Regions from separate parts of the Homo sapiens genome. Here region 2 is linked to region 1. Evidence: fine-mapped expression QTL. A gene starts in region 1. The other region holds a variant in brackets. All regions are shown on one strand. Distances are between the middles of the regions.

What was found. PIP is the estimated chance that this variant, and not a neighbour inherited with it, causes the effect.
Region 2: its variant is fine-mapped to the expression of COXFA4L3 in whole blood (GTEx, PIP above 0.99).

The regions. Positions count from the first base shown.
Region 1 is chr15:45,427,392-45,432,753 of GRCh38, forward strand. It overlaps COXFA4L3 (cytochrome c oxidase associated subunit FA4L3), which reads left to right and starts at 3,219. Exons shown (of 5, transcript NM_197955.3): 1 at 3,219-3,264; 2 at 3,379-3,441; 3 at 3,610-3,695; 4 at 4,681-4,741. The coding sequence starts at 3,406. RefSeq lists a silencer at 3,162-3,241.
Region 2 is chr15:46,178,002-46,183,391 of GRCh38, forward strand. No RefSeq gene overlaps it. Among named protein-coding and RNA genes, the nearest start is that of SQOR, 550 kb to the left of the region's middle. The variant T/C (reference allele first, on the strand shown) is at 2,574.

The DNA.
Region 1 (5,362 bases):
TGGCCTCCCAAAGTTCTGGGATTACAGGCGTGAGCCACCGCACCTGGCCTAGTTGAAATATTTTAAAGTAAATCCCAGACATCATAATATTTCTCCCTTAAATATTTCCACATACAAGCTCTGAAAAAGGGAGAGGCCATTTAAAAAATATAATCGCCGGCCAGGCGCGGTGGCTCACACCTGTAATCCCAGCACTTTGGGAGGCCAAGGCGGGCTGATCACGAGGTCAAGAGATTGAGACCATCCTGGCCAACACGGTGAAACCCCCTCTCTACTAAAAATACAAAAATTAGCTGGGCATGGTGGCGGGCGCCCATGGTCTCAGCTACTCGGGAAGCTGAGGCAGGAGAATTGTTTGAACCTGGGAGGCAGAGGTTGCAGTGAGCCGAGATATATATATATTGCAGTTATTGCAGTTATATATATATTGCAGTTATATATATATATAAACTGCAATACTATTATCACACCTAAGAAACTTAACAATATCCCTTTAATATCATCTAATGTCTGGATCCTATTTAAGTTTCCCACTTGCCCCCAAAATGTCTTTTTACAGTTGATTTGTCTTTTTGTATATTCAAATAAATACCCCACCTTTGGTAAGTTTTCTCAGACCCCCTTAGTTAGAATTAATCACCTGTCTTGGCAACAGATCATGCCTTGCATTAGAGTTATTTAGAGTTACTAAATTGCAAGCACCTTGAAGTAAGTGATTTGTGTCTTACTACTCTTTTTAATTCTGCTATGCCCCCATCCTCAGAATAATGCCTAGACTACTAAAAAACTGCATTACATTTTGAAAAGAAATGATACTGGCAAAGCACGGCTCTGTGTTTAAGGTCATTAATAGGCAATGGCTACACATTTTTAATTTCAATTTTGGGCTCATGAAATACTAATGTAAAATTTATTTCTTCTTCTTCTCTCTCTCTTCGTCCTGTTTCTCTTTCTCTCTCCCTCCCTTCCTTCCATCCTAGAAAAACTTCTGTTTCTTAATAACATGAGGTTTTTTTGTAGAATCTTCTGACAGAAGTAGCCTTAGAAGTCTTTCATTAAAAGGCTTCTCTGATTCTAGGTAATACAAACCAAGGAGAATTAATGTTGAATTTTCTTTGAAGTATATAACGTAGATCCATCCAATTAGCAAATGTCTCTAGTTACAGTTCTGGGGTTAAACAGTAAGAACGCTTGCCAGAGTAAGGGAGTGGGAAACTACATTTATGATCAGCCTTACATAAAACAAATCTTTGAGGCTGGGCGTGGTGGTTCACACCCATAATCCCAGCACTTTAGGAGGCTGAGGGGGGCGGATCACCTGAGGTCAGGAGTTCAAAACTAGCCTGGCCAACGTTGCAAAACCTGTCTCTACTAAAAATACAAAAATTAGCGGGGCGTGGTGGCACATGCCTGTATTCCCAGATGCCCAGGAGACTGAGGCATGAGAGTCGCTTTAGCCCATGAAGCAGAGGTTGCAGTGAGCCGAGATCACACCACTGCACTCCAGCCAGGGTGACAGAGCGAGACTCTGGCTCAAAAAACAAAACAAACAAAAAACCAAATCTTTGCATATAGTAACTATTTGTTGAGTGCCTACTACAAGCAGGACAGAATGCTTTACATATATTCTAACATTTTTTCCAACTCTCTCCCCTGCCAGGTTTGCCCCCATTTTGCAGATATATAAACTGAAACTCATGAAGGTTAAGTAGTTTACTTAAAGTCAGCTATTAATAATAAGTATAGCAGGGGCAGGCTCTGAACTCAGGTCCATTTGACTACAAAACCCAGGTTTAGAATGAAAATGGGGTTGAAACACAGCAGGGTCTAGCCAATTTCAGGGAACGTTAAGATGTTGCCTTTTAACTTTAACTTACAGCTTGAACTTCAAACTGTTTGTTTTAAAATAACTGGTCCTTTACTTATTGCAGTATTTAACAGAGGGGTGCAGACAGAACCATGGTGTTGGGCACCAGACAGACCTGCGTTCTGATGGCATCGCCGCCACTTACCAGTGACGTGACCAGAGCCTCTCTGAGTCTTAATAAGACTTTGCACCCACCTTGCCGAGGGGAATCTGGCTCAGTGTCTGGCACACACACAGCCCCTGGCTCTGTGAAATTGTTACCATTGCAGCCGCCTGCAAACTGCAAAGTGAGGTTGCTGGCTTAGAGGAGAGTTAGGAGGGAACCCAAAGACTAAACCAGCCGGCAGGGTCGTTTGCAGAAAGACCTTCTCCTGACAGCCTCCCCAGCTTATTCTTTTGTTTGTTCTCCCTCGACCTCGGGTTTTTGTTTTATTGTGTTTATTTGTTTGTTTTTGTTTTTTTGGGTTTTTTTTTTAGCAGAAAAAGTCAGGACGCCCTGGGAGTTATTCTGAAATAAACTTTACAATTTAATTTTAATGATCTCCATAGGTGCACAGACCACATTTTGGAGCTTTTAATGTGATTGGATTAATTCTAATTTACCCGCCTGCACCTGGGAGCCTCTCCTGGGACCCTCCGGTCTGCAGCTCATTTTTCCGGACCCCCTTTTATTGTTTATTTGCTTATTTAAATATTTTGTTTTATTCTATTTTATTTAAAACAGGGTCTCGCTCTGTTGCCCAGGCTGGAATACAGTGGTGTAATCTTGGCTCACTGCGACCTCAAAGGCCTGGACTCAAGCGATTCTCCTGCCTCGCCCTCCTCAGTAGCTGGGACTGCAGGCATGCAGCACCACGCCCGCTAATTTTTTTTAGTAGAGACGTGGTTTCGTCACGTTGGCCAGGCTGGACTCGAGTGATCCTCCTGCCTCAGCCTCCCAAAGTGTTGGGATTACAGTCCTAAGCCACCGCGCCAGGCCCGGATACCCTTTTAGAAGGGTTGGCTTTCCCTCAGGCCTCGGCTATCTGCGCTCCCCTCTTAGGGGGTTCCACCTCCTACTCCCCAAACCTCCAAACTCCTCACAAGCACCTAGGGGGGCCAAGAGCGACCGGGGTCGGCAGGTAAGGAAGACCGCGGCGAGCGGCAGGGGGCGCCAGCGCCCGCGTTCGGGCGCTTCACGTCAGCCGCAGAATGTCCTGCAGGGGGCGCCCGGGAGTCGCGTGCCCAACGGGGAAAGCGAGTCAGGTCCCTCGCGCTCCCCGCCCCACGCGCGTGACCAGAGCGCGCTGGCCCGGCCCACCCGGGGCGGTTGTGGTCGCTATATATAAGGTGGGGAGGCCGCCGGCCCGTTCGGTTCCGGGCGTTACCATCGTCCGTGCGCACCGCCCGGCGTCCAGGTGAGTCTCCCATCTGCAGAGACGCGGACGCGCCGGCCCGCAGTTGGCCTGCGGAGCGCGGTGGACGGTTTGGCGCCCACCAGGCGATCAATACTTTGGATTTTTAATTTCTAGATTTGGCAATTCTTCGCTGAAGTCATCATGAGCTTTTTCCAACTCCTGATGAAAAGGAAGGAAGTAAGTTTTAAAAACAATTGAAAATCTTGACTAAAGTTTTCATTTTTAAAGATGAAAAGATGGCACAGATTTTGAACAAAGTATAAAATAAATACAGTTGTTTTGCTGTGTTTCAAATGTTTCATATTGAAGTGTCCAAATGTGTCCCCTCCACCTGTTATTTGTTAGCTCATTCCCTTGGTGGTGTTCATGACTGTGGCGGCGGGTGGAGCCTCATCTTTCGCTGTGTATTCTCTTTGGAAAACCGATGTGATGTAAGTAGGTCTCAATTTATAAAAACGTTTTTGGCAGTGTTTGGATGACTTTTAGTTTATGAAATGTATAAGTTTCCTATTTTTTTCCCATGGATGAGAATGCCAAATTGTGAACTGGGAGTCAGGGTTAAAAAGCATCTTTTATCAGAAAACTCTTATGATATTGTCTACCAATGGGTCAGAAAATGAAAATTAGAAAAAAAAAAGAAAAAATTTAAAAAAACCCATGATATTAATCAAATTAGTTTATTTCTTGTGTTTATTCTTTTACCCATTGGCCCTTCTCCACTCTCTGGCAGTGAAGTAAAGCTTGTTTTTTTTTTTTTAAGTTTTGAAATTTAAAGTTCTTCAGTGGTTTTGGGAGATATATATCATGAAACAATCATTTTAATTAAAATTTTAAATTTTAGCTTATTAGATTTTTACTAATGTGGTAGAATTGATAGATTCAGTTGTCTACGATGAACCTAATCTCAACTTTGGGTAGAAGAAAGTAAAAAACAAAAACATGTATCCTGGAATATGAGGAAAAGATAAACTTGAAACTGTTGGAGGCTGGTGCAGGGCTGGAGAGGGCAGTCCTCTAACCGCTGGCAGAGGAGCCTAGAGCCCTGGAGTTCACCACCTGCAGAGTTCAACCTGCCCCTCCCACAGACTGAGATAAGAACATTATTGCATGTCCTTGGCTTGGCAGTTTCACTCCCATGGTTATTTGGTTTGTGGGATCCTTCCCCAATGCAGCCCAATCAAGAGAATACAGACCTCCTACCCTTTAGGGGAACTGATGTTTAATGTTTGAGCCACACCATGAAACTCCCTTAGAGAATTTTCAATCAATTTTAGTTGCTACTGATGGTTCCTGATCATTAGCAGACACATGCCTTAGTATGAGACTGGTTTTGTCCCTAACATGTTTATAAACCCAGTATCAGTGTTGGTTTAAATTCACATCTTTTAATGTTTAATTGGCTTTCTTTAATTTTAGCCTTGATCGAAAAAAAAATCCAGAACCTTGGGAAACTGTGGACCCTACTGTACCTCAAAAGGTATTGTTAAATTAAAAACAAATGATTTATATTTTGCCCAAACCTTAGCACCTTTGTGAGCAAAATAGATTTAGTACCTTACCCTTATTGTGTAACTTAGATCAATTGTGCCTTCATCGAGTAATTAAAATGAGGAAATTTTAAGAGCCTACTCTATGCCAGGAGCATTGTCCATCCACTCATGAGAAGCATATACACTTTTGGAACTATGGCTCACATAATACCTGGCAAACTTAAAAATCTGGATACCGGCCAGGCACGGTGTCTCACACCTGTAATGCCAACACTTTGGGAGGCCGAGGCGGGTGGATCACTTGAAGTCAGGAGTTCGAGACCAGCTTGGCCAACATGGTGAAATTCCATCTTTACTAAAAATACAAAAATTAGCTGGGTGTAGTAGAACGCACCTGTAAACCCAGCTACTGGAGAGGCTGAGGCACGAAAATTGCTTGAACATGGGAGGCGGAGGCTGCAGTGAGTTGCAGTTGTGCCACTGCACTCCAGCCTGGGCAACACAGCAAGACTGTCTTAAAAAAAAATCTGGATACTGCTAAGTGAAAGTAGGGCACATGTGTTTGATCTTTCCCTCTGATCTCATAACACTTAGGAGCCCAAGGGCTT
Region 2 (5,390 bases), 750 kb after region 1:
TAGCAATATTCTACTAAGTCATACCAGAGCTGTACCCCACCCCGCCTCTACTCCCCAAACTTTCTGTTAGGAAGGGGACTTGCATCAGCTTTGATCTGCCTGGACTTCATGTGTAATTCCTTGTCTATAGCTATTTTATCTCCAAATATTATGACTGCTATAGCCTTTTAATTTTGGTTTCTTAGTTAATGAGTCTTTTGCAAAAGAAATTAGTTTAGTGGATTATTTGCTCACTACATATTGGCCTCTATACTCAGTGTAGCTTGACAGCATTGCCAGTGATGAATCTGTTATAGATTCAGGAATGTCAGTTCCCAAGGAAGCAATGCTATTAGACAGGATCACTTTGTTGGAGAGCTACAAAATACTCTAGTGAAGCTAGACAAAATGAATTTATCTTATGGCAACAAAATTGTAGGGTTTTACTGTAATAATTCTTTGAACTCTGCAAGGAAAACCATTATTTCTGGAATGAAACCACATGATGTCGCTTGATGGGAATGGGGAAATCAGGCCCTAGATTTTACCTTATAACCAGTGCGTCAAACATTTGCTTCGACTATGGCAGTTGTTAATGTTGTAAAGCAGCTTATAAGCTCCTAATAATCCTGAGGTGGGTTACAGAAATTTGAAAGTCAGAAGAGGCAAGTGTCACAGCATTGCGAATTTCAAGAATACTTTTTCGTATTTCTGTGAAAATTTTCATTAGAATTTTGATAGGGGTTAGATTGCTTTGGGGTAGTATGACCATTTTAACAATATTCACTCAATCCTTGAACATGGAATATCTTTTCATTTTTTGGGTCTTTAATTTCTTTTATTAATATTTATTGTGTTCAGTATGCAGATCTTTCACTTCCTTGGTGAAATTTACTCCTAAGAATTAAATTTTATTTTCGATGTTATTGTAAATGAGATTGTTTTCTTAATTTATTCACTGTTAGCATATAGAAACACTACTGATTTTTGCATGTTGATTTTGTATCCTGCAACTTTACTGAATTTGTTCATTTGTTCTAACGGTTTTTGGTAAGGTCTTCAGGGTTTTCTGTATATAATATGTCATCTGCAAACAGAAGATTTTAATTCTCCCTTTCCAATTTGGAAGCCTTTTTTTTTTTTCTTTTTCTTACCTAATTGCTCATGCCAGGACTTCTAGTAATACATTGAACAGAAGTGGTGAGAGTGGGGATCCTTGTCTTGTTCCTGATTTTAGGGGAAATACTTTCAGGTTTTCACTGTTAAATATTAGGCTAGTGGTGAGTTTGTCATATATGGCCTTTATTATGTTGAGGTACAAGTCTTTCTGTACCTAATTTGTTGAGAATTTATGTCATAAATGATGTTGAATTTTGTCAAATGCTTTTTCTTTATCAGATGATCATATAAATTTTATACTTCATTTTGTTAAAGTGGTGTATTGCATTTATTGATTCGTGTATGTTAAAACATCATCGCGTTCCAGAAATAAATCCCACTTGATCATATACTATGATTGCTATAATGTCCTGTTTAATTCATTTTGCTAGTATTCTGTTGAGGATTTTTGTGTGTATACTCATCATGGATAGTGGCTTATAACTCTTTTTTTTCTGTAGTGTCCTTGTCTGGCTTTAGTATCAGGATAATGCTGGCCTTCTAAAATGAATTTGAAAGTATTTCCAGTCATCATGTTTGGGGAACAGTTTGAGAAGGATCAGCATTAATTATTTGAATGTTTGATAAAATATGCGAGTGAAGTCCCCAGGTCCTGAGAGTTTCTTTGTTGGGAGATTTTTGATTATGGATTCAATCTCCCCACTCATTTTTGGTCTTCTCAGATTTTCTTTTTCTTCATGATATCTTGGTAGGTTGTATGTTTCTAGGAAATTTTCCATTTCATCTATGTCATTCAATTTGGTGGCATATAATTGCTCACAGTAGTCTCTTATGATTCTTTGTATTTCTGTGATAGTAGTTGTGATATCTCCTCTTTTATAATTTTACTTGAGTCTTCTTTGTTTACCTATTTAGTCTAGCTAAAGGTTTGTCAATTTTATTTTTAAAAAACTCAGTTTCATTGATTTTTTTCCCATTATTTTTCTCGTGTCTTATTTCTGCTCTGGTCTTTATTATTTCCTTCCTTCTGCTGACTTTGGTCATAGTTTGGTCTTTTTTATAGTTCTTAAGGTATAAATTTAGGTTGTTTCTTTGAGATTTTTCTTTCTTCTTTAATACAGGCATTTATACAAACTTCCTTCTGAACTGCTTTTGCTAAATACCAAAAGTTTGGATATAGTGTTTTCTATTTTATTTGTCTTAATATATTTTTTATTTCTCTTTTTTTTGACCCATTGATTGTTCAGGAGTATATTTTTAATTCCATGTATTTGTGAATTTCCAATCTTCTTCCGAGTATTGATTTCTAGTTTCATGCCACTATAGTTGGGAAGAAAACTTGATATAATTTCAGTCTTCTTAAATTTGTTAAGACATTTTTGTTGCCTAACATGATCTAACCTGGAGAATGTTTCATGTGTACTTGGAAAGAATTTTTTCTGTTGCTGTTTGATGGAATGTTCTTTATATATCTG[T/C]TAGGGCCATTTGGTCTATAGTGTTGTTTAAGTCTGCTGTTTTCTTATTGATTTTCTGTCTGGATGATCTGTCCATTGCTAACAGTGAGGTATTGAAGTACCCTACTATTATCGTATTGCTGTCTATTTCTCCCCTCAGTTATATTAATATTAGCTTTATAAATTAAGTGCTCCAATGTTGGGTGACATATATTTGAAATTGTTACATCCTTTTGATAAACTGACACTTTTATTGCTATATAATGCCCTTGTTTCTTGTTACAGTTTTGGACTTCACTTTTATATTGTCTGATATTAATATAGCTACCCATGCTCTCTTTGGGTTATGATTTGCATAGAATATCTCCTTCTATCTATTTACTTTCAGCCTATATTTGTTCTTAAACCTAAAAATGACTATCTTATAGGCAGCATATAGCTGGATCTTTTTTAAAGATTCATTTAGCTACTGTATGAATGGGTAATTTTTGATTGGGTAACTTATGTGTGGCATAAATCACTTTTGCTTACTCAATGTGTTCTTTAATTCCTGGGTAGCTCTTTGATTCTTTTGATTGGGTAATTTGTTTAAATTTAATGTAATTTTTGGTAGGAAATAACATCCTATTCCATTTTTTTTTTAATGTTTTGTAGTTCCTTTGTTCTATTCTTCCTCTCTTGGTGTCTGTTAGTCTGTTTTGTGCTGCTGTGAAAGAATAACAGAAGCTGGGTAATTTATAAAGAAAAGAGACTGGTTTTCCCCATAGTTTGGAAGACGGTATAAGATGCATGCCACCAGCAGCATCTGCTCCTGGTAAGGGCTTATGGGAGCTTCCAGTCATATTGAGAGGTGAAAAGAACCAGTGTGTCACATGGAAAGAGAGGGAGCAAGGGAGGGGGGAAGGGTGTGCCAGGCTTTGAAAAACAACAAGCTCTTCCTTGAACTCATAGAGTGGCAACTCACTCATTATTGCAAGGACAACGCTAAACCATTCATGAAGGATGTGCCCTTCTGACTTAAACACCTTTCACTAGGCCTTACTTCCAACATTAGGGATCAAATTTCAACATGAGATTTGGAGGGGACAAATATCCAAACTGTATCAGTGTCTTACTTTGTAATTTATTTATTTCTAGCGGCTTTCTTTGATTTCTTTATCTGTTGCATATCTACTTTAGTTTTTCTTTGTGGTTACCCTAAAGCTCACAGAAATATCTTTTATAGTATTGGGTAACCATATTTTAAACTGATAAGCAACTTAACTTTGACTGTGTACAAAAACTCTATACTTTAACTTCTCCTCCCCTCACTTTTTATGTTTTTATTTCACAATTTACATCTTTTTATACAATCTTCCCATTACCACAGTTATTGTGCCTAGAATTATTTTTGTTTTTTAGCTTTTATAACACAATAAAAGTGATTAATACCAAACATAAGTAATACAGTATCAGAGTAATCTGAATTTGATAATACTCCTATTTTTACTTTGCATTTTATATTTTAATCTGTTTTTGTGTTGGTAGCATCCTTTCGTTTAACCTGGAAAAACTTCCTTTGGCATTTCTTATAAGGCAGATTTAGTGATGGTGAAATGCCATAGCTTGTGTTTGTCTGAGGAAGTCCTTATCTTGCCTTCATTTTGGAAGGACAGCCTTCTGTATATAGTAGTCTTAATTGACAGTTGTTTTCTTTCACGGTTGGAATATATCATCCCATGTCCGCCTGGCCTGGATGGTTTCCACTGAAAATCTGCTGATGGTCTCATGAAAGTTCCTTTGTGTGTGATGAGTTACTTTTCTCTTACTGCTTTCAAGATTCTTTGTCTTTGACAATTTTATGATGTCTGAGTAAAGATTTCTTTATATTTGAGGTTCTTTGGGCTTCATGGATCCATTTGTATATTCATCTCTCCAGATTTGGGAAGTTTTCTGTCACTATTTCTTCACATAAGCTTTTTGCCCCTATCTCTTCATCTGCCCCTTTGGGACGTAATGTATGCTTTGGCTGGTTTGATGGTGTCCTGTAAGCCCTGTAAGCTTAGTTTACTCTTTCATTCTTTCTTCCCTTGGTCTCATTGGGTAATTTCAAGTGACCTGTCTTCAAGCTGACAGATTCTTTTTTCTGCTTTATCAAGTCTTCTGTTGAAGCTCTCAATGAAATTTTTTAGTTTGTTCACTCTGTTCTTTAGCTCCTGAACTTTGTTTCTTTTTTAATTGTTTCTCTTTGTTGAATTTCTTATTTTTTCTTGTGAACTATACATTTTGTTTAGTTTTCTATATGTGCTCTCCTGTAGCTCACTGAGTTTCTTGAAGATAATTTAAATTATTTGTCAGGCAGTTTGTACATTTCTTTAGGGCTAAGTACTGATTCTTTATCTTTTTTTTTTCCTTTGGCAGTATGTTTCCCAGTTTATTCATAATCTGTGTGGCTTTGCATTGGTGTCTGCGCATTTGAAGAAGTAGGCATCTATTCCAGTTTACATCCTGGTTTTGGCAGGGAAAGCCCTTCTCCACTCAGTGTCCAGAGATTCTGGGAAGGGCATCTGGCAGAATCTGCAGGTCGGGTTGTGGCTGCAGCCCTTCAGCAGGCTGTCCTGGCCACTGGATTAGCAGGTAGGCTGGTCTGGCACCTGGGTCCTTAGAGGATGGCCTAGTACCTGGATCCACCAGAGCAAGACTGGAACTTGGGTCCCCTGTGGCAGGCCTGTTTCCTGGGTCCAATGGCTGCTGGCCTGGTGAGCTGCAAGTGCTGGCCTGGTAGACAGTGGCATGGATTCTGGGGCCATGTAGGCTGACCTGAAACCTGAGGCTGCAGGAGGCTGCCTAGAGCCTGAA